Linked DNA regions of Homo sapiens: regions 1 and 2 are each linked to region 3. Evidence: fine-mapped expression QTL. A gene starts in region 3. Each other region holds a variant in brackets. All regions are shown on one strand. Distances are from middle to middle.

The links.
Region 1: its variant is fine-mapped to the expression of ZNF547 in whole blood (TOPMed, PIP above 0.99).
Region 2: its variant is fine-mapped to the expression of ZNF547 in monocytes after Pam3CSK4 (Quach 2016, PIP 0.95). The same link has a PIP of 0.9 or more in monocytes after LPS.

What each region holds. Positions count from the first base shown.
Region 1 is chr19:57,441,469-57,449,650 of GRCh38, reverse strand. ZNF749 (zinc finger protein 749) reads right to left here. Exons shown (of 3, transcript NM_001023561.4): 2 at 7,640-7,766; 3 at 2,550-6,360. The coding sequence ends at 4,166. Among named protein-coding and RNA genes, the nearest start is that of ZNF749, 10 kb to the right of the region's middle. The variant A/C (reference allele first, on the strand shown) is at 4,191.
Region 2 is chr19:57,268,780-57,276,961 of GRCh38, reverse strand. ZNF460-AS1 (ZNF460 antisense RNA 1) reads left to right here. Exons shown (of 3, transcript NR_136529.1): 2 at 1-27. Among named protein-coding and RNA genes, the nearest start is that of ZNF460-AS1, 7.5 kb to the left of the region's middle. RefSeq lists silencers at 3,607-3,901, 4,940-4,999. The variant A/G (reference allele first, on the strand shown) is at 4,630.
Region 3 is chr19:57,359,371-57,367,552 of GRCh38, reverse strand. It overlaps ZNF547 (zinc finger protein 547), which reads right to left and starts at 4,002. Exons shown (of 4, transcript NM_173631.4): 1 at 3,850-4,002. It overlaps ZNF304 (zinc finger protein 304), which reads right to left. Exons shown (of 3, transcript NM_020657.4): 3 at 7,655-8,182. TRAPPC2B (trafficking protein particle complex subunit 2B) reads right to left here and starts at 4,002. Exons shown (of 2, transcript NM_001355204.2): 1 at 3,850-4,002; 2 at 2,148-2,738. The coding sequence starts at 2,719. The coding sequence ends at 2,297. RefSeq lists enhancers at 3,950-4,329, 4,370-4,449.

The sequences.
Region 1 (8,182 bases), 82 kb before region 3:
GCAAGGGCCTCAACAGTGGACAGAAACATTATTCTTTTAAAAGAATTATGTATCAAAACACCTTGGTACTAGCACAAATGCATACATATAGTGGAATAAAGAGGCCAGACGGAAGTCCTCATACTTATGCTCAGATTTTTGACAAGAGCGCAAAAACTTATTAAGGAGTCTTTTCAACAAATGACTTTCAAAAAGCTGGATATCTATATGCAAAAGAATGAAGTTGAACTCTTACCTTCCTCCATTTACTAAAACAAACTGAAATAAATCAGACATAAAAGTACAACTTAAAACTATAAAACTCCTAGAAAATAACATGAAAAAAGGTTCATGACACTGGATTTAGCAATAATTTCTTGGGTATAATACCAAAAGCATAGGAAACAAACATAACATATATTGGACTCCATTGAAATTTGAAAACTCCTGTGCAAAAAAAAAAAAAAAAGACATGAACAGAATGAAAAGGAAGCAGACTGAATGGTAGACAGTATTTGAAAAACACATATCTGCAAGGGGTTAATATTTAAAATACGTATACAGAATATGTACATATATAATACGTACATGTTAACCACTCAACAAAGTATATATACTTCACATCATGTTGTACACAACAAAAGCATACAATGTTATCTGAAAATTTACAAAAACTTTCTTCAATGGGCAAAGACATTTAACAGATATTTCTCCAAAGAACCTATACAATTAGTCAACAAGCAAATGAAAAGATGCTCAACACCAATACTGAAATGCAAATTAAAAAACCATAATAAAATAACATCTTACACCCATCATGATTAAAAAACAAAGTGTTGGCAATAATGTGAAAAACTAGAACCCCTGCACTGGTGAGAATGTAAAATGGTGCAGCTGCTATGGAAAATAATTCCCCCCACAATTTAAAATAGAATTAACGGGAAGTGGCCAGGCGTGGTGGCTCACGCCTGTAATCCCAGCACTTTGGGAGGCTGAGGCGGATGGATCACAAAGTCAGGAAGATCAAGACCATCCTGGCTAACACGGTGAAACCCCGTCTCTACTAAAAATACAAAAAATTAGCCGGGCGTGGTGGCGGGCACCTGTAGTCCCAGCTACTTGGGAGGCTGAGGCAGGAGAATGGCGTGAACCCGGGAGGCGGAGCTTGCAGTGAGCCGAGATTGTGCCACTGAACTCCAGCCTGGGTGACAGAGCAAGACTCCGTCTCAAAATAATAATAATAATTATTATTATTATAATTATTATTATTAACGGGAAGCACCATTTCCACTTCTGGGTATATGTCCAAGAAGAATTTAAAGCAGGGCCTCAGGAGGTATTTGTATATTCATGCTCATAGTGGCATTAACAAGAACAGAAGAGTGGAAGCAACCCAAATGTACACTGAAGAAAGAATACAGGAAAAGTGGCATATACATATACCACAGTCATATGCCACACATTTCTGTCTACCATGGACCACATGTATAACAGTAATCCCGTATTATAACAGAGCTAAACAACTCCTATCACCTAGTGCCACCACAGCCACTGTAACTCAATCCCATTACTCAAGTGTGTGTGGTGACACTGGTGTAAACAAACCTACTGGTCTGCCAGTCATATAAAGAGCACAGGCCGGGCGCTGTGGCTCATGCCTGTAATCCCAGCACTTTGGGAGGCCGAGATGGGCGGATCATGAGGTCAGGAGTTGGAGACCAGCCTGGCCAACATAGTGAAACCCCATCTCTACTAAAAATACAAAAAATTAGCCGGGCATGCTGGTGGGCACCTGTAATCCTAGCTACTCGGGAGGCTGAGGCAGGAGAATCGCTTGTACCCGGGAGGCGGAGGTTGCAGTGAGCCAAGATCACACCACTACACACCAGCCCAGGCAACAGTGCAAGACTCTGTCTCAAAAAAAAAATAAAGCCAGGCGCGGTGGCTCATGCCTGTCATCCCAGCACTCTGGGAGGCTGAGGCGGGCGAATCATGAGGTCAGGAGTTCGAGACCAGCCTGGCCAACATAGTGAAACGCCATCTCTACTAAAAATACAAAAAATTAGCTGAGCGTGGTGGCAGGCACCTGTAATCCTAGCTACTCGGGAGGCTGAAGCAGGAGAATCACTTGAACCCAGGAGGCAGAGGTTGCAGTGAGCCGAGATTGTGCCACTGCACTCCAGCCTGGCAACAGTGCGAGACTCTGTCTCAAAAAAAAAAAAAAAAAAAAAGTGTGAGGCAAGGCTTCAGAAAATATTCCAGAATATTGTTATCATAGGAGATAACAACTCCCTGTTATTGAGCCTGAAAACCTTCTAGTGGGACAAGATGTGGAGGCAAAAGACAGTGATATTAATGATCCTCACCCTCTGTAGGCCTTGACTAATGTGTGTGTCTGTGTCTTCATTTTTAACTTATTTTTTACGAAGTTAAAAAATTAAATAGAAAAAGTTTATAGAATATAAAGGAGTACTTCTATACAGGCTGTATAATGTGTTTGTGTTTTAAGCTATTATTACAAAAGAGTCAAAAAGCTTTTTAAAATTTTAAAAGTTCATGAAGTAAAAACGTTACAGTAGACTAAGGTTAATTTATTACTAAAGAAAAAATTAATTTAGAGTAGCCTAAGTGTACAATGTTTATAACATCTACAATAGGGTACAGTAATGTCCTAGAGCTTCACATTCACTCACAACTCACTCCCTGACTCAACCAGAGGGGTCCCGCAAGCTTCGTTCATGTTAGTGCCCTATAAAGTTTTTACCATTTTTCATACATTTTTACAGTACCTTTTGGAAACTTAGATATGTTTAGATACACATTTACTTATCATTGTGTTTCAATTACCTACAATATTCAATACTGTAACATGCTGTTAAGGTTTATATCTGAGGCGCAATGGACCATATCATATAGCCTAGGTGCGTAATAGGCTGTGCCCTTCAGGTTTGTGTAAGTACACTCTTTGTTCACACAATGACAAAATCACCTTAAGATGATTACTCAGAACACAGTCCTCTTGTTAGGCGACACATGACTACAATGGGATTTTATTCGGCCTTTAAAAAAGATGAAAATCATAAGCTATGCTACAACATGGATAAACCTTGAAGACATTTAGGGAAATAAGCCTCAAAATAAGTCACAAAAGACTAAAACTTAAGTTTCCTCATATGAGATATTTATAGTAAAATTCATACAGTAGTATTGTCAGGGGCTGGTTGGCGTAGGGAATGAGGAAGAGGAGTAGTTTAAAGCAGCGGTCCCCAACCTCTTTGGCACCAGGGACTGGTTTCATGGAAGCCAATTTTTCCACGCATCAGGGACAGAGGAGGGGGCAGACAGTTTCAGAATAAAACTGTCCCACCTCAGATCATCAGGTATTAGTTAGATTCTCATAAGGAGCACACAACCTAGATCCCTCACAGGCACAGTTCACAATAGGGCTCAGGCTGCTATGAGAATCTAATGCTGCTCATCTGACAGGAGGTGAAGCTCAGGTAGTGATGCTGGCCCGGTTCCTAACAGGCCACAGACTGGTACCAGTTTGCAGCCTGGGGGTTGTGGACCCCTGGTTTAAAGGGTATAATGTTTTAGTTTCATTAAGTTGAAAAAACTTCTGGATATTAATTGACAACAATGCGAATGACTTAACACTACTGAACAGTACAGTTAAATATGGGTTAAGATGGTAGATTTTAAGTTACCTGTAATTTGCCACAATTATAATTTTTTTCTTTTTGAGACAGAGTCTCGCCCTGTCACCCAGGCTGGAGTGCAATGGAACAATCTCAGTTCACTGCAACCTCCGCCTCCCAGGTTCAAGTGATGCTCCCTGCCTCAGTCCCCTGAATAGCTGGGATTACAGGCACCTGCCACCATGCCCAGCTAATTTTTGTATTTTTAGTAGAGATGGGGCTTCACCATGTTGGCCCGGCTGGTCTCAAACTCCTGACCTCAGGTGATCCACCCACCTCTGCCTCCCAAAGTGCTGGGATTACAGGCGTGAGCCACCACGCCTGGACATAAATGTTTTTAATGTAGTTCCCAGCAGGAAATCCTCGCAGATTTCCATCTGAACTCTTTCAACATTAGATTTACATATATTAATAGGTTCTTGGTCCGATGTGAACCTTTTGGTGCTGAATGAGGTGACAGTTTTGGTGACTTTCCTGCATTCACTCCACTAAGGCCTTTTTCCAGTATGAATT[A/C]TCTGATGTTTAATGAGGCTGGAGTTGTATTTAAACACTTTGCTGGATTCACCACACTCATAAGACCTTTCTCCAGTGTGAGTTTTTTGGCGCTGACCAGTATTACATTTGTTGAAGTCTTTCCCACATTCCCTTAACTTAAAAGGACTTTCTCCAGTGTGAGACTGCTGATGTATAATAAGGCTCGATTTAGTCCTAAACAATTCCCTACATTTACTGCACTCATGAGGCTTCTCCCCAGTGCAAACTTTATGATGTTTAATGAATGTAGAGCGGTATCTAAGAAACTTCCCACAGTTGCTGCATTCATAAGGCTTTTCTCCAGTATGAACTCTCTGATGAATAATGAGTTTGTAGCTATCTCTAAAAAATTTCCCACATTCACTACACTCATAAGGTCTTTCTCCAGTGTGAACTTTCTGATGTCTACTCAGTGTACAGCGATATCTAAAGAATTTCCCACATTTGCTGCATTTATAAGGCTTTTCTCCAGTGTGAATTCTCTGATGAATAACAAGTTTGTAGCTGTCCAAAAAGAATTTCCCACATTCATTGCATTCATAACGCCGTTCTCCAGTCTGGATTTTCTGGTGACCATCTAGATGAGCCTGTGTAAGGAAGGCCTTCCCACATTCACTACACACATAAGGCCTTGGCCTGAGGTCAATCCTCTTGTGTTGAATGAGGTCAGACCTTTTTGAAAATGCATCAGTGTGGATTTTCTCATGCTGAACTAGGTGGGACTTTCTAACAAAGGCCTTCGCACATTGAGTGCATTCATAAGGCCGTTCTCCAGTATGGATTTTCTGGTGACCAACCAGATGAGCCTGTGTAAGGAAGGCCTTCCCACATTCACTGCATGTATAAGGCCTTGGCCTAATGTCAATCCTCTTGTGTTGAATGAGGTCAGACCTTTTTGAAAATGCATCAGTGTGGATTTTCTGGTGCTGAACTAGGTGGGACTTTCTAACAAAGGCCTTCTCACATTCAGTGCACTCATAAGGCCGTTCTCCAGTATGAATTTTCAGATGCTGAACAACATTATGTTTGAGGCTAAAGGCTTTCCCACATTCGCTACACTTATAAAGCCTTTTGCCAGCATGAACTCTCTGGTGCATATTGAGTGTGGAGCGGTGACTAAAGAATTTTCCACATATGCTGCATTCAAAAGGCCTTTCTCCAGTATGAACTCTCTGATGTCTACCGAGTGTGAAGCTGTCCATAAACAATTTCCCACATTCACTGCACTCGTAACGCCTCTCCCCAGTGTGAACTTTCTGATGTCTGATGAGTTTGGAGTTATACATAAAAAACTTCCCACACTTGTTGCATTCATAGGGCTGTTCTCCAGTATGGGTTTTCTGGTGACCAACCAGATGAGCCTGTGTAAGAAAGGCCTTCCCACACTGGGTGCATTCATAAGGTGTTGGTCTACTGAGAATCTCCTGATGTTCAATGGGGTCAGACCTTTTTGAAAGAAAGCCTTCACTGTGAATTTTCTGGTGCTGAACTAGGTTGGACTTTCTAATAAAGGTCTTTCCATATTCAGTGCCCTCATAAGGCCTTTCTCCAGCATGATTTTGCTGATATTTAATAAGGTTGGAGTTGTACCTAAACAATTCCCCACATTCACTGAACTCATAAGGCCTCTCCCCATTATGGGTTTTTTGGTGCTCAAACAGCCCATGTTGGTGGCAAAAGTCTTTCCCACCTTGGCTGGAGTTGAAATCATTCTGTTCACCTTGAAAGGCTTCCCCATCCTGGGTATCCCTGTACAGCTTCCACCCACTGTTTAAGACCTGTTGCTGGAGAAGGTCTGAGCTGGCAGTAAAATCCTTGCCACCCTGCGTGCATGTGAAGTTCCTCTCTCCCACGTGAGCACTGTGGTTCACAAATGAAGGCCTCCACTCATCACTTCTGGTGAGCTTCTCTCTAATCTGCTCCTTTTGGTGCAGGTCATGCTCTGCTGCACATGTGTACAGCCCTTGCTCAGGGTGTGTTCCATCGTGCTCAGCCAGGTGCAGAATGTCCTTCAGAATTGAGCTACACATCTTGCAGGGCTGGGCCTTCAGGGTGGACAAAGCTGGCTTTGGAATTGTGACCTGTAACACTCTTACAGAAACACACTGCTTGGAAGGTACCTCCTCATCCTTGGCTCCATGCCAACAACCTGTAAGAACAGAAATGCTGGTGAAGTGCACGTGAACTCCGGAGGGAGGAGACAGCCCCATCACAAATGTCTGTGAGACACACCCACAAATGAGGGCACAGGACTGGTCACAGGCAAGGAAATAAGGCCAGTGAGAGGAAGGCCCAGTGTTCAGAGGTGGGCCTGTGAAGTGTGTGTAGTGGGGGAATCCTGGTGGTAAGGACACAAGGGAGAAGTACCATGCAGGGAGGGCAGGTGGGGTCTCCAACTCACTCCTCTATAAATGGCTTTCAACAGGCCATGACGGTTGTGTCCAGATCCAGAGAGATCTGATTGTGTGAGAGCGAGTATTCATGGACTACTGAAGGATACACGCAGACCTCATAACACCTAAAGTACAGGTCATACATTAGACAGCACTGCAAAGGGAGAGGTGGAAGAGAATGGTGGAGAGATGAAGGCTGGAGAGGAGGGGTCAGAGGTGGAAGCCAGGGGTCAGAAGTCAGAGTAAAAATAACAACAGGGAAGGAAAGGAAGAGTGACGAGTGGCCAGTGGCCCTGCATCAAACAATAGTGGTCACAAGGTAAGTTCTCAATGTGATTTGAACCCAGCCTTGATATCACATCCTTTCCCAGCTTTCACCCACCAGGGCCAAGTCCTTCTGAGTGTCTCTTGCCATTAATAGAGGACTATCCACTCTGCCAGGCACCCAGAGACCTCCCCCTTGCTCAAGGTGAGCAACTATCTAGCTGCGGCATAAGTCCAGCTACGGGAAAGGCAGGGAAAGGGAGGGGACAGCATGTACACAGAGCAATAAACCCAGGACATGCTGCATTCTAAAGCTACCAGAACACCCAGTAGAGCGTCCTGCAGAAATAACTTCACAATCCTCACAAGTGGTGACCAGGGAGGTGCCTGAAATTCCTAGCACAGACACTGTCTCCAAGTATGTCAGCAAGGGGAACAGGGAAACCCTTGGACAGAGGTTTCACACATTTGGACAGAGTAATCAAACCAGGGACAGGCACCGCCATTAGGATATCTTAAAGAAACCTGAAGATTTCTGACTTCCGAGCCTTATCTTGTAAAGTTTCAGAGCAACAGAAGCTGGGGCTGCTTAAGGGGAGGTGGTACAGTATACACAGCCCAGCTCTGGCTGCCTTATCACATTTGCCAGGAAACCAGGAGAGGACAGGACGTAGCACTCACAATCTGGTGTGGGAAAGACAGAGTTGTCATGGAAAAGAGCAAAAAAACAGCACCCAGCACAAGACACCAGAGTAGGTATGAAGGCCTTACCTACTGATGACAAAAGCGCAAAGTTCTCCAACATCACATTGCTGTGCAGGTGTCTCTGAGCATCATTAAGGATCCCCCATTCCTCTTGGGAGAAATATATGGCCACATCCTCAAAGACCATACAATCCTGCCAAAATTATGACACTTCAGTCTATGAACAACTTCTTATTCTGTGTTTCCTTAGATCTGTATTTATCTACTTAAAATCTAAGAATTGGAGGGCCAAACTAACAGCCAATGTTTTTACATTTCCCTTGCGATCCAGATCCCATATGCTGAACCACTATCTAATGCTCATACATGATTATTTCTCCTGTCCTAATCAACACAAGCCCTGTCACCACACAATAAGGGATAATCTCTTAGCCCTAAGGCTGCCAGACTTATGCAAACCACTGAGTTTTAAGCTCCTCATCCCACCCTGCATGCCTTTCCTGCCAAAACCCCAATACAGTCTCTGATATATGCTTTCCCTTCAGTCATGCCTCTGCCTCCTAACCAAATCTAGTATTTCCCGTGGCCTGGTGCAGCACGGCATTCCCC
Region 2 (8,182 bases), 91 kb after region 3:
ACAGAAGCCTGGCATGCCAGCAAAAAGGTAAGAATTTGTTACCAGTCAGATTTCTGACTTCTCCCTCTCTGTGCAAACGGTTGAATGAATGGTAAAAATAATAACAATAATAAAAATAATAAATCAGTGTGTATCTCCTCTGTAAAGTTTTGATTAATATGAAAAAGAATTCTAAGCTAGTCAAACTGGTGTATTTTGTGCTGTGAATTTGTTTTTCTGTAGGATGAAACATGGGCTTAGAACACCTGTGAGCCCACTTTTCAACATGACCCAGCAAACTGGTCAGTAACAAACAGCTGCAGGTCCCTGAAACAAACAAACAGGATGAAGTCTCCCCTTGTTTTATGTCCTTGGGAGCCTGACCTTTTAACCATGTGGCAGTACCTTCTCTTGGTCTCCACCTACTAGGGAAAAGGAATTTTAGGGTTCATGTCATAGTCAGCTCTAAAAATCATATAAAATAGTTAAAAGCCTTTGCAAGCTCAAAATTAACTACTCTAGGCTTCTGTGAAAGGAAGTAGGCACCGTCCCACACTGTAGCTCAGTAACTAAGGTTTCTGCACTTTCACAGTGGCAGTTTGGGTTTGATACCCCACCTAGGAAGTAAGTCATTTCTGGTTTAATATCTGCGTGACCTTGTCTAGTCTCTTCTCCTCCGCAGACTGTCTTAAATTTTCCTTTCTCTATGCACGTAGGAGATAACCTTTGGTAAAGTTCAGAAGTTAGAAATATTGGCTTCTTGGCATGGCTAAAGTTGGGTAATAAGAGATTTGAAAGGATTTCTTTTTTAAAGAGCACTATGGTTAAAAGTTAGCTTAATTAAAAGTGGATAGGCCAGGTGTGGTGGCTCACGCCTGTAATCCCAACACTCTGGAAGGCCAAGGAGGGCAGATCACCTGAGGTCAGGAATTCGAGACCAGCCTGGCCAACATGGTGAAACCCCGTCTCTACTAAAAATACAAAAAAATTAGCTGGGCGTGGTGGCGGGTGCCTATAGCCCCAGCTACTCGGGAGGCTGAGGCAGGAGAATGGCGTGAACCCGGGAGACGGAGCTTGCAGTGAGCTGAGAACGCGCCACTGCACTCCAGCCTGGGCAACAGAGCGAGACTCCATCTCAAAAAAAAAAAAAAAAAAATGCCTATGTGGAAAATAATTATTCTTGCTGCACTTTATATAAATAATCAGGCCAAGTATAATAAAGCAAATCAAATCAGTCTTACCCTAATTTGTCTTTAGTAAAAATGGGAAACTGGAGAGAGAAATATTATATTTCAAGAACTATGGTATACTTGTTATTAAATTCTAGTCTCATTAGTTCTTTTTAAGTTTGTTTCTGCAATTTAAGCTACCCTGCTTATTCCTGTGAACCAACATCTCTGACTGCTGCTCAGAAAAAATAAGAGGGATGGGTAATGTAAAAATCTGGATCAATATTCCAATTCTGGGCACATTATAATCAGCTAACAACCCCATGCCAGCTTAGTTCCAACAGTTGCTCAGTTCATGAAAAGCCTTCTAATTTAGTTTACTTAGAATAACTTTACTTATTTTGCTTTACTCTTGTGGAATATATTGCTGTTATACTCTTTGTGTAGGAATACAGAACAAGCTTACTGAATGTTTCCTTTTTTTTTTTTTTTTTTTTTGATGGAGTCTCACTCTGTTGCTCAGGCTGGAGTGCAGTGGCGCGATCTCGGCTCACTCTGCCTCCCGGGTTCAAGTGATTCTCCTGCCTCAGCCTCCTGAGTAGCTGGGACTACAGGCGTGAGCCACCACGCCCCACTAATGTTTTGTATTTTTAGTAGAAACGGGGTTTCATCATGTTAACCAGGATGGTCTTGATCTCCTGACCTTGTGATCCGCCCACCTCAGCCTCCCAAAGTGCTGGGATTATAGGTGTGAGCCACCGCACCCAGCCAGAAACTCCTGTTTTTAAAACTATCAGATCTGGTGAGACTCCTTCACTATCATAACAGCGCAGGAAAGACCCTGCCCCATAATTCAGTCACCCCCCACCGATCCCTCCCATGACAAATGAGAGTTGTGAGAGTTACAATTCAAGATGAGATTTGGGTGGGGACACAGCCAAACCATATCATATGGGGTCTCACTATGTTTCCCAGGCTGTCTGTGAACTCCTAGGCTCAAGTGATCCTTCGGCCTCAGCCTCCCAGGTAGCTGGGACTACAGGTGCACACCACCATGCCCAGCTTGGAAATCAAATTTCAACATGAGTTTTGGTGGAGACGAACTATTTCCAAATCTTAGTATCTCCCTTACCTTATTTGTATAAGACGGGATTCACAAAACACACATAGAAGCACTTACATTTGATTTTTAATATATGTATTGCTAAGGTGAGCACTTACTTGATTTTTCAGAAATTAAAACCAGTAATTAATAAGGCTCACCCATAAATAAACAAGGAGAAGAAACCAATCTTAAAGAAGAATTGCAAATAGTATACATAGATACCAACAGCCCCCTTCAGACAGTGGAGCTTTGTGGTCTTCCCCTTGAGTTGGCTGGATTTAGTGACTAATTGTGGAAAATGAAAACAGTAACTTGACAGGGGAAACCTGGCAGACAAGTACCTAACCAAGTGATCAAGGTTAGCATCACTTAAGTCATCTTTTTTTTTTTTTTTTTTGAGATGGAGTCTTGCTCTGTCTCCCAGGCTGGAGTGCAGTGGCGCAATCTCAGCTCACTGCAACCTCCGCCTCCCAGGTTCAAGCCATTCTCCTGCCTGAGCCTCTTGAGCAGCTGGGACTACAGTTGCACGCCACCACGCCCGGCTAATTTTTGTATTTTTAGTAGAGACGGGGTTTCACCATGTTGGCCAGGATGGTCTGGATCTCTTGACCTTGTGATCCACCCGCCTCGGCCTCCCAAAGTCCTGGGATTACAGGGCGTAAGCCACCGTGCCTGGTCCATTTTAGTCATCTTGACATCACGTAACACCTACTATGATGATACAAGGAGGACACTTTGCCAATCTGATGTTCTTCCCCTTAACCCACAATTCTAGACTAATAATGAAAAAATACCAGACAAATGCAAATTAAGGGACATTGCATTATGAGTACTCCAGAAGTATGTAGATCATGAAAAACAAGAAAAGACAGAGCAGCTGTCACAGATGGGAGAAAACTAAAGCGATGAGATGATTAACTGAAATGTGGTGTCCTGGACTGGATCCTGCAACTGGAGGACATTAGTGGAAAAAAACTGGTGAAATCCAAATACAGTGTGTAGTTCAGTTAGTAGTAGTAGTAGTATACCATGTTAATTTCTTAGCTTTGACAAATATGTCATAGGCTTATGAAGTATTAACATGAGGTGGAGCTGCATGAAGTTATATAGGAACTCTGTAATATCTTTGCTTCTTTACAGCTAAAATTGTCAGAAAATAAAAAGTTTAAAACAAAAAAAGCAAGGAGAGACTTCTGGCGTGACAGCATAAGGAGCTCTGTGGGCCTATTCCCCAACAAAACTGTTGAAAATTATTAAAAACAAAAATGAAAACAAAAAAAGTCGTGTCTCTGGAGATAGTCCTAAGGATATACATCAAATGAAAAAATATTTATTCAAGAGAATCTGTCCTTCTGTAAGAACTGCGAGAGTCTGTGGTATTTGAACCAAGACTATCTCTTTCCTTCAGCCCTCCCAGTTCAATGATATGGAAACTGTACTCTACAGTGTTGCAGACAAGAACACAGGGCTCTCCCTCTCAGCTTCCATACAGAGGGCTGTCTTCCCAGCAGGGTAGGATGTCAGCATTTCTTATCTTGCCACCAGAAACTTGCTGAGGCTAAATCCCTAGTGAGTGCAGCCCCAGAGGCAGGAGCTCCCTTCCTCCACCCATCCAGTGTTGGTGAGATGAAGGCCCTTCCTTGGGCATCATGATGCTGAGCACTGGGGATTCATCACACTTGCCCCACTGAAAGTCTGTAGTAGTGTACCATGACAGGGCAGCTGAAAAGACATGAGACCACTGGCCACCCGCTACCACTGAGCACTCAACCCTCAAAGCAGGATGTCAGAAGTGGGCCATTGTTCCCACTCCCAGCTTTAGAACCCAGATCCAGAGATACTGCCTGAGGGGACAAGCAGAGAGCCTGGAAAGAAACATGTGGAGGTACGCCAACCTGAGGTAGAACAAATATCAAACAGTTTGGGAACCCAAACAGCCTGATTTTTTTTTTTTTTTTTTTTGAGACGGAGTTTTGCTCTGTCACCCAGGCTGGAGTGCAATGGCGTGATCTCGGCTCACTGCAACCTCTGCCTCCTAGGTTCAAGCTATTCTCCTGCCTCATCCCAAGTAGCTGGGATTACATTTTTGTAGTTTTTAGTAGAGACAGGGTTTCACCATGTTGGCCAGGCTGGTCTCGAACTCCTGACCTCATGTGATCCACCCGCCTTGGCCTCCCAAAGTGCTGGGACTACAGGTGTGAGCCACCGTGTTCGGTCAAGCCTGATAAAAAGCTTTGGAGCAATTTATGCCTCTGGGTATTGTTGAAAGTGGTGTCATTCTGTACTCTCTTCTCAAACCACATCAGTGGTCTATAGTGGAAGAATCAAGAATACCAGGCTCTCTGGTTATGAAGGTAATATATGGGTTCCAACCCT[A/G]AAATTCATCTGGAATCTGCTGCTTCCTCTTCATCTCAAGTCTCACTTCATAGGGAATCCTTTCATAACTAGTGTTTGCTCCAGTCAGCTTCTCCTTTCATTCCTTCTCCCTTCATTCCTTTCATTCCTTCTCCTTTCATTCCTTGTAGCTTCTCCTTTCATTCCCTGTAGAATCTGTCTTGTTCTCATGGAGTCAGGAGCAGAAATACATCTCAGGGCCAAAACCATGACTTTCAGTCTTGAACTGGAAGTTTCCCCTGAAGCCATAGGCTGGTTGCTGAGAGAAGAGAAAGGGAAATGGCCTTAACAGCCAGGGGTGACCCCGCAGTCCTACAGTAACAGTCCTACAGTGGTGCCAGGAGACCATGGGGATTTCACAGCATTATTATAAAATCCACTCAACATTCACTCTACAAATACTTCTTAGAGAAGCTGAGGGAAGGCACTTTGCAAGATGATGTAAAAGATACAGTGTTGAGCCAGTGCCACCTGGATTGTAGACATGTGGTCCAGGTAATGAGTCTCAGCTTGTATCAACCATTCCCTTCTCATAGAGGCCTCTCCAGATCTCTTACTCTTTTTTTTTTCTTTTGAGATGGGGTCTTCCTCTGTAACCCAGGCTGCAGTACTGTAGCAGGGTCATAGCTCACTGCAGCCTCCACCTCCCAGGCTCATGTGATCCTCTCACCTCAGCCTCCTGAGTAACTGGGATCACAAGCCCACACCAACACACCCAACTAATTTTTTTTTTATTTTTTGTAGAGATGGGGTCTCACTGTGTTGCCCAGCTCCTCTCAAAACTCCTGGGCTCAAGTGCGGATCTCTTAATCTAAAGTAGCTCCTCCGGCCAGGTGTGGGGTCCTGTAATCCCAACACTTGGAGAAGCCGAGGTAGGAGGAACACTTGAGCCCAGGAGTTCAAGACCAGCCTGGGCAACATAGTGAGACCCCGTCTCTGTGAAAAATTTAAAAATTAGCCAGGCGTGGTGGTGGGTACCTATAGTCCTGGCTACTCGGGAGGCTGAGGGAGGAGGATCACTTGAGCCACGGCGGTTTAGGCTGCAGTGAGCCATGATTGTGCCACTGCATTCCAGCCCGGGCAACAGAGTGAGAGAACCTGTTTGTTTAAAAAATAATAACAATAATAAAAATTTTAAAGTAGTCCCTCACCCCAATATTACTCTGCTCTATTTTTCTTTAGGACATTCATAACCATTTGAAAATATATTTTTATATATTTACTAACTTTTAATTAATTAACTCAACAAGTACTTGACTATCTTGTGATAGGCTCTGCTCTAAACAGTGGAGATACAGAGCTGGGCCTGGTGGGTTTGTTCCTGTAGTCCTAGCTACTCAGGACACTGAAACAGGAGGATCGCTTGAGACCAGGAGTTTGAGACCAGCCTGGGCTATCTAGCGAAACCCTGTTTCTAAACAAAAAAACAAAAAGTCACAATGGAGACACATACATACCACACACACACACACACACACACACACACAAAATAATAATAATCCAAAACTCCTAAACAATATAGAAGGTTAGGAGTGTTGCGGAGATAAGACAAACTAGAGCAGATTAAGAATCAGTGAGAGTGGGATAAAGCCAGTTGTGCAATACAGAGTGGTTGGGACAGGTCTAATAGGACAGTTAGGCCGGGCGTGGTGGCTCATGCCTGTAATCCCAGCACTTTGGGAGGCTGAGGCAGGCAGATCATGAGGTCGGGAGATCGAGACCATCCTGGCTAACATGGTGAAACCCCGTCTCTACTAAAAATACAAAAAATTAGCTGGCCGTGGTGGTGGGCCCCTGTAGTCCCAGCTACTAGGGAGGCTGAGGCAGGAGAATCATTTGAACCCGGGAGGCAGAGGTTGCAGTGAGCCGAGATCACGCCACTGCTCTCCAGCCTGGGCGACAGAGCAAGACTTCGTCTCAAAAGAAAAAAAAAAAGTGATGTTTTAGCATGGACTTGGAGGAATTAAAGACTCATCAAGTGGAGATCTCAGGAAACAGTGTTATCACTCAGAGAAAACACACAGGACAATGGAACTGACAGAGCATCCTGGGTGTTTGTGGAACACCAAGAAGCCTAGTGCGGCTGGAACTGAATGTGCATGGAAGTTGGAGAGATAGATGGAAACAAATTGTGTAGTCTTTTATGCCAGCGTAGAGAGGTTGTAATATGTTCCTGTGTGTTCAAAAATGTACCTGGGGTTTTTTGCAGTATGGTCTGATAAGAAACTCGGACATGCAAATGATTGCCAGGAAGGAAGAACTTTCAACTCACGGAGTTTTAGAAACAGTAGGCAAAACACATCCTGCAGGGCTATGTGAGAAGCACCAGGGTGGTATAAGAAGCAGAAGCAGAGGAGAAAGCAGAGGCCAGATCCTTTATTGTTTTCCACAGGAAAAGAAAGGCAGGGCTGGGTAACCAGAAGAGGATTTGCTGGTTTGAATAAAGTTGGTAGACTTTGGGGTCTAGGAGCTGTCCCTGTCTGCCTAGTACCTGGCCCTGGAGTCATTAGAGCAAAAAAAAAAAAAAAAAAAAAAAATTGTCTCCTGTAGTGTAAGAGCCAGACAGAGGAGATGATTCACATTAGGGTACTCTGGATTTGTTAGTATGCAAATAAAAGGCATGGTTCAGAGTGAGTCATTTGCAATCTCTAAGAATCAGTTAACTCTAAATGGCAAGGTCCCAAATTCCATAGCATCAACAATGCAGAAAATAAGAAAATATAGCTAATACACTGTGAAATGGGTAGCCATCATGGGGTTTTGAGCAGAGCTGTGATGTTATCTGATTTATGTTTTTGTTTGTTTTTTGAGACGGAGTCTTGCCCTGTCGCCAGGCTGGAGTGTGATGGCGTGATCTCGGCTCACTGCAACCTTCTCCTCCTGAGTTCAAGCGATTCTCCCACCTCAGCCTCTGGAGTAGCTGGGATTAGAGGCATGTGCCACCATGCCCGGGTAATTTTTTGTATTTTTAGTAGAGACAGGGTTTCACCGTGTTAGCCAGGATGGTCTCGATCTCCTGACCTCGTGATCCACCCGCCTCAGCCTCCCAAAGTGCTGGGATTACAGGCGTGAGCCACTGTGCCTGGACTGATTTATGTTTTAAAAGGATCACTCTGGGTAGTCTATGGAAATTGGAATATGGGAGGGGCAAGAGGGAGAAGTCCTGTTAGGGAGCTCTGGCTCTTTCCAGATGTGCAAGGTGGAGGATAACTTAAGCCAATGTAGTGAGAGGGGAGGTGGTTTACCACAAAGTACAATTAACAGTAGATCAAGGAGAACAATGAGTAATTGAATTGATACAAATATATGGAAAAGTATGAATGGCTTTATGGGATGGATTGTTGTTTCTAAATCTATCCATTCCCCACACGAGCTGCTCCAGTGGCTCAGCATGTTCATGATGATACTGCTGATATATCTTATATAAATGTTATACTAAATGTAGATGCTCAGTAAATATGATTGTTTTGCTGTAAGAGATTCTAGGCTAGGGCCAGGGCTTTGGTTATACACGAAAGTGTGAACTCATCAGGCT
Region 3 (8,182 bases):
AGTATCAGCTCTCTCCTCCCTCACCACATAGCTTGCAGGCAATGACCTTTAGACTTCCCTACCAAATTGGATCCTCAGGACCCGGTCCAATCTACACCCTCTATTCTTTTTTTTTTTTTTTTTTTTCTTGAACAAACCATTTAAGAAATCAAATAGGGTAAAAATGAAGGTAGCAATTTTACACAAGGATATAAGACAAAGCTTAGAATTACTTGCTGAAAAGTTATTCAGAATGGAACAAAATTGTTCAAGTGCTCCCAGTTAGCACAGGTTGTGTTACTTGCTTTTCAATGGACATTTACTATTTTACAGTAAGATCTACTTATCATAGGAACAAACAGACAATTCCCAGCCCCCTCTGGTGTATTGCCTAAAAGGCTGAGTACAAATGTTAATGTAATCCAAGCTTTTCTTTGACAACAACCCTAAAAATTGCCTTACAACTTTTCACAAGTACAGGCATCAACAGTTGATTGTCTGAGGGAAAGGAAATATAAGAATATAAAGTGACAGAAGCAACACACTTCACTGTGGCCTGGAACTGCTCCCAGCCTCCTATTTTACAAACATGATTCAGGTTCTCACATTATAGCAAGATCACTATTCCTAGCCTCTGGCAGAAGCAGACATGTGACACTTAGCACTGCACAAGTGTTTCTTTGGCTTCTTGAGTAGTGCTATGTATACTGCCAATACATTTTTATAACATCTCTAAATGCATAACGTCCACGTATGTGCTATGACATTTCACTTCCAATGGCAGAATATTTTAGTTTTAAATCTATCTACCAAATCTTGACTATGACATTTGTTTCTGGATTGTTATAAGATCAACCTATCTGGGCCGGGTATGGTGGCTCACACCTGTAATCCCAGCACTTTGGGAGGCTGAGGCAGGAGAATCGCTTGAAGTCAGGAGGCAGAGGTTGCAGTGAGCCAAGCGCCACTGCACTCCAGCCTGGACGACAGAGCAAAACTCCACGTCAAAAAAAAAAAAAAAAAAAACAATTTATCTGAATTGGGCAAGTCGAAAGCTTATTCCCAGCCAGGCGCAGTGGCTCACACCTGTAATCCCAGCACTCCGGGAGGCCGAGGCAGGCAGATAACCTGAGGTCAGGAGTTCAAGACCAGCCTGGCCAAAATGGCGAAACCCTGTCTCTACTAAAAATACAAAAATTAGCCAGGCGTATGCCTGTAATCCCAGCTACTCTGGAGGCGGAAGGAGAACTGCTTGAACCCGGGAGGCAGAGGCTGCAGTGAGCCAAGATCGTGCCACTGCACTCCAGCCTGCATGACAGGAGCAAGACTCCATCTCAAAAACAAAAAAACAAAAACATACACACACACACAAAAAAGCTTATTCCCAATTTTTAAGTAAAAAATATTTCATGGCCAGGCGCAGTGGCTCACACCTGTAATCCCAGCACTTTGGGAGGCCGAGGCGAGCGGATCACGAGGTCAGGAGTTCAAGACCAGCCTGACCAATATGGTGAAATCCCGTCTTTACTAAAAATACAAAAATTAGCCAGGCGTGGTGGTGCATGCCTGTAATCCTAGCTACTTGGGAGGCTGAAGAAGGAGAATTGCTTGAACCCGGGAGGTGGAGGTTGCAGTGAGCCAAGATCGTGCCACTGCACTCCAGCCCCTGCACAACAGGAGCCAGACTCCATCTCAAAAGAAAAAAAAAAAAGAAAGAAAGAAAGAAAAAGAAAGCTTATTCCCAATTTTTAAGTAAAAATATTTCATGGCCGGGAGTGGTGGCTCATGCCTGTAATCCCAGCACTTTGGGAGGCCGAGGCAGGCAGATCACGAGGTCAGGAGTTCAAGACCAGCCTGACCAACATGGCGAAACTCCGTCTCTACTAAAAATACAAAAAAAATTAGGCAGGCATGGTGGTGGGAGCCTGTAATCCCAGCTACTCGGGAGGCTGAGGCAGAATTGCTTGAACCTGGGAGGCGGAGGGTGCAGTGAGACGAGACTGTGCCACTGCACTCCAGCCTGGGCAACAAGAGCAAAACTCCGTCTCAAAAAAAAAAAAAAAAGAAAGAAATTAATTATTATTGATAATGAGTTCTTTATAAATAACATTGTTCACAAGGAAATACTAATTGATCTACTGATATGTGACATGAGACAGAATGTACTATTTTTAAATATAAAAGAAATTTCATTAAGTTTAGATAAGCTGAGAATACACAAAAGATTTCCAGGCTATTTAATCAAGTAATTTACAATGTACACATTCCTGAGTATACACCATTGTGGTGATATAATTTATTTTGGAATTTTCTCCATTCAGCTTAAAAGGTGTTTCTTCCCAAGAAACTGAACTTTTCTGTCAAATGCACTTGATCGAATAGGAGAATTGGGTTCATAAAATGGATTCATTGAAAATTTTATATATAAATCATAAACATCAGTAAAGAAGTTCTTTATTCCATCTTCTTGTCTTATGTCATGAAGCATAATAAACCTCATATGCCCCGCGGTGACAAATGCTGACACAAACCACTCGTTGAACTTGTCCACAGTTTTCAAGTACATGTTGTTCGACAGCCACATGTTCTCATCTACGAGGTCGAGAGCAGCATGAGCTATGAACTGGTTCAGATGACGATGGTCGTCTTTGGATTCTGCCTTCCCAGCTGGCAAAAACTCCATTTCAAAAACTGGATTATCATGGTGACCAACAATTACAAAGTAGAAGCTTCCAGACATGGTCTTCAATATATGGCTCCTGCAGCGGGAGGCCGACAACGGAAACGCAATGTCAGTTTCCGCGGAAGAGACCCGCGCTCCGCACCTTTTTTTGACACGGAATCTCGCTCTGTCGCCCAGGCTGGAGTGCAATGGCGCGATCTTGGCTCACTGCAATCTCCACCTCCTGGGTTCAGGCAATTCTCCTGCCTCAGCCTCCCGAATAGCTGGGATTACAGGCGCGCGTCACCACCCCCGGCTAATTTTTGTATTTTTACTAAAGACGGGGTTTCACCATGTTGGTCAGGCTGGTCTTGAACGCCTGACCTTGTGATCCGCTCGCCTTGGCCTCCCAAAGTGCTGGGATTACCGGCGTGAGCCACCACGCCCGGCCACCCTCTATTCTTTTGAAGAATCTACACCAGTTCTCCTCTGTAGACTCCACACCTTTCTGTCCCCCTACCCATGTGACATTTTCAACTTGAGACGCCTGAGAATCACACTGGCCAAACTCCAACCCATGATCTTCTCCATGAAACCTACTTCTCATGCTGCTGACTTCCCCAACTTCATTCTTTCAGATGTTCGGGCAAAAAAAAAAAAATGACCCTTCACTCCCTATTTTTGCTCACAGACATATCTGATACGGCAGGAAAACCTGTTGGCTCTATCTTCCAGGTCTATCCAGAATCCCATCACATTGTCCCTCTTATACCACGGCTCTGGTGCAGCCTCTGGGATCCACTGCAGTGGCCTCTTCTGGGTCTCTCTGTGTCAATTCCCCATCCTGCTCGTTCTAACTCTGGACCTGCCCCTCCCACTGGTCTTCCCTTGACAACCTTCCATGGTTATACCGGCTGCTCAGGCTGCCATTCCAAGAGAAAATTCACAAAACCCTCTCTTTCCCGCAGAAACAACCCACACTCCGGGCTCCCCGACGCGGCCCACTTGGCAGCACCTCCATGCTCTGAACCTGAGATCCCCGAAGGGAGCTCTGAGGCTGCATCAAACCAGCTGATACGGGGACCCCACACAGGAACGCCCCTCTCTTCGAGACAAGGGGCCTGACCTGCAGGGCCCCTTCTATGGGCTTCAGCACTGGAAGGAGGGGTCGGGCGGAGGTGGGGGGGGGCCTGGGACGGGGCACCCACCTCGGGTTCTTCGGCGGGGACTCCGCAAGTCCAGCCAGGGAAGAGAGGGGCGGGGGCGACAAAGGCAAGACAAGGACACCGCCGTCCCCAGTCCTTGTCAGCTGAGCTTCTGCCACTGTCAGTTGTGCCTGTGTCACTACCGCCTCTGCGTACAAGGAACCAAGCCGCTTCTCGCGCTTTTCCGCTCCGTCACTTCGGTGACGTCATAGAGCGCCAAAGGCCGGAACTAGTGAAAACACCAGAGAAAATCAAATCAACCACGGCAAGAGGACGCCGGAAGTCCCGCCCTCCTACGATGCGCGAGCACGAGGACGGACGCACGCACGCACGCACGCACGCAAAGGTTCCTTCCTGCACATTCATTGGGTCAGTCGCGCTGCCGAGAACCGCAGTGTCTTCTGGGTTATGAAGTTTCGACACCGCTTCTGGACTTGCCTTAGAGCGTTGGTCAGTCCTTATATGGCGGATAGAGGCTCAGTGGCACCGTCAGGGGAGCTGGTAAACAGAGTGCCGGACTCCACGGACAGGACGGGGCTTGGGTTGCTCTTAAAGGCGACATAACCAGATTTTCTTGAAGTAAGGTCTAGGATACTCACAGAAATGTGAGGGACCTATGATATCGGATTGTGAAGCACAGCAAGTTCTCAACGGCTACACCGCCAAAGGGACACACTATACCACAAAGGCACTCTGTCTCTACTCATGCCTCTCAGCCATATGTTGCTTTTCAAATACACATACAGTTAAACTTTGACTTCTATTTATTAAGCTTCAATATGGTTGGTCCAAGAGAACAAAGAAAGACTACATGGCTGGGAATTTGCACAAAAGAAGACAGGAGATACCGACGTAGATTGAAAGGGTGACGCTGTGCCTCTGGATCCAGAAGAAAACATCATTACTGTCTGTAGAGTCAGTGATTGTGTTCCTACCAAGAGTGCAATGCTTTTATTCTAATAATACTTATTACTTCATGTCTGAAATATTTTACATTTATTTTAAAAGTCTCAATCCTGTCTGAAAATGAGAGTGACTGATACATGCCATTTCCTGACAGGACATTTTGTGCCATTCCATAGTTGGAGTATATGTACACAGGGAACGTATTATCCCCAATAAAAACTGTGAACTTTCATGATCTTATCTCCTTCCTGAGAAGTGAGTTATCATTTTACAGGGAGTTGAAATTATCTGTGAAAATACTTGTGAAATGAAAATTACAGAAATCTATTAATAATAACTGTTAGGTTTTGAAGGGAAGGCGAGGGTTAAAGAAAGGCAGAGTTGGCAGCTCTACAGCAATGCAGGTTTTATGTCCAGCACGAGACCTGTGATGGGGAGAACTAGCTTAGTGCCAGAACCCCTCACTGCTTACAGGCTGGGGCAATTATAGGCCTGGATGAGAGGGGTCAGGGGTGGGGGGCAGGGGGCGCGGCGGGAGGGTATGACTTGCTGCCCAGGAGGATGGTGGGTTTTTTTTTGTTTTTGGAGGAGTCTCGCTCTTGTCGCCCAGCCTTGAGTGCAATGGCGTGATCTCGGCCCACTGCAACCTCCGCCTCCCGGAGTTCAAGCGATTCTTGAACTCCGCCTCCCGAGTAGTTGGCTTTACAGGCGCGTGCCACCACGCCCGGCTAATTTTTTTGTATTTTTAGTAGGGACAGGGTTTCACCATGTTGGTCAGGCCAGTCTGGAATTCCTGACCTCAGGTGATCCGCCCGCCTCGGCCTCCCAAATTGCTGGGATTACAGGCGTGAGCCACAGCACCCGGCCAAAGGATGTGCGTAAGATGTTCCTGAGGCAGTTTGGCCTTTTATCCGGCAGGATGTGATAGTGACCTTCCTTGGATCTTTTCCCAGAACGATGTGATAAGAAAGTCAGGCAGTTGGGCAGGATGTTTCTCAAGGCCCTCACTCCGTGGAATGCTTCACTCTGACCAAGGTCTGTGAGATGGCAGGGGGCTTACAGGATGGTGCAGTTTGGACTAACAGTGATTATGTTATTTCAAAACTAGTGGCAGAAATAGTCCTACAGAAATCTCTCTGTGACATGTGAAGGGGGGAAAAAGCAAGGTTACAGTAGAGTTTGAGCAAGAGTCTGAGAAGTCAAAGAATGAAGTTGAGACTGGCTGTGCTGGAACCTGGACACATTATGCTTCTGTCTCCTATATGTATTTCTTATTTCATACTTGAAAACATCGCTTATTAACTGTTTGGAGGGATAGAGATAACAAATGGAAACACTTGTCAAAAAATAAAAATGAAGGCCGGGTGCGGTGGCTCACGCCTGCAATCCCAGCAATTTGGGAGGCCGAGGTGGGCGGATCACGAGGTCAGGAGCTCAAGACCAGCCTGGCCAACATAGTGAAACCCTGTCTCTACTAAAAATACAAAAATTATCTGGGCATGGTGGCGGGTGCCTGTAATCCAAGCTACTTGGGAGGCTGAGGCAGGAGAATCGCTTGAACCCAGGAGGTGGAAGTTGCAGTGAGCAGAGATCGCGCCACTGCACTCCAGCCTGGGTGACAGTGCAAGACTCCGTCTCGAAAAATAAAAATAAAAATGAGTAGGCAATCTGTGTGATGATGTGTATTTACTGCTCTACAAAATGTTCAATGAGCACGTACAAACTGGGTTTCAGGTCAATGGTAGGTATATGGGACACACCGGGAATAGGGCTGCCAGCTGCTGTGTGTATACAGGACTGTTATGTGTTTCCTTAGATTCTGTATTTGTCTTTTTGGTATTCATAAATCACAGGTTCAAGCTAACAGCCAAAGTTGTTAACTTCTCTGTCTGCAAGCCACTTACTCAGAGGTGTGTGAAACTCACATAAAAAAACCCCAGCCAGGCTGGGCGCAGTGACTCACACCTGTAATCCCAGCACCTTGGGAGGCCGAGGCAGACAGATCACCTGAGGTCAGGAGTTCGAGACCAGCCTGGCCAACATGGCGAAACCCCATTTCTGCTAAAAATACAAAAATTAGCTGGGCATGGTGGCGGGTGCCTGTAGTCCCAGCTGCTTGGAAGGCTAAGGTGGGAGAATCGCTTGAACCCGGGAGGTGGAGGTTGCAGTGAGCCGAAATCATGCCACTGTACTCCAGCCTGGGCAACAGAGCAAGACTCCATTTCAAAACAAAACAAAACAACCCTGCCTTTAAAAAAGATACTTATTGTGTGTTATTAGGGAATTGCAAATAAAAGCAACAATGGCATACCACTACACACCTATTTGAATGGCATTTTAAAATCCAAAATACTGAAAATGCCAAATGCTGATTAGGATGAGATGCAAGAGGAATGTTCAATCATTGTTAGTTGGATGCAAAAATGGTACAGCCACAGCCCGTTGCAGTGGCTCACCCCCGTTATCCCAGCACTTTGGGAGGCCGAGGAGGGTGATCACTTGAGGTCAGGAGTTTGAGACCAGCCTGGCCAACATGGTAAAAACCCATGTCTACTAAAATAGGTGGAGGTTGCAGTGAACCAAGATCATACCACTGCACTCCAGCCTGGGTGACAGAGTGGAGACTCTGTCTCAAAAAATATATATAAATAAAATAAATGGTGCAGCCGCTTTGGAAGACAGCTTGGCAGTTTCTTACAAGACTAAACATGCTATATGACAGAGAAAATTGCACTCCTTGGCACATATCCAAATGAGTTGAAAACATCTCCACAGAAAAACTATACAAATATGTAGTAGGTTTATTCATAACTGCCAAAACTTGAAAGCAACCGTCCTTCAATAAGTAAATGGATAAAGAAACTGAGGTGTATTTATAGAATGGAATATCATTCAGCCATAATTTGCACACAAATCTTCAGAGGTTTATTTGTAATAGCCAAAAACTGAAAGTTACCCAAACATCCATAACAATTAAGTTGACAAAGAAGAAAAATTGTGGTATACAATGAAATACTGAAATACTACGCAGCAATACAAATGAGCAAACAATTGATTCATGCAACAAGATAATGGATTAACCTTAAAATAGTTATGTTTACTGAAAAAGCCAGAGCCCCACCCCCTAAAAAGTACACACCATATGGTTTCATTTATAAAATTATAGAAAATGCTTGCTGTTGCTTGTGAATTGTGGAAAACAAGATAAGGAAAAATTGAGGATTATAAAGGGACAATCTTTTGTTGTGTTGGATATCTTGACTGTGGTGGTTTCATAGGTGTACACACATGCTGAAACAGCACATTTTACACTTTACATATTTGCAGTTTATTGCATGTTAATCATACCTCCATAAAGCTATTAAATAAATGTTCCTCATTAAAATCTATATATACTGTTCCACTAGGAAAGTTAGATCTGTCAACTATT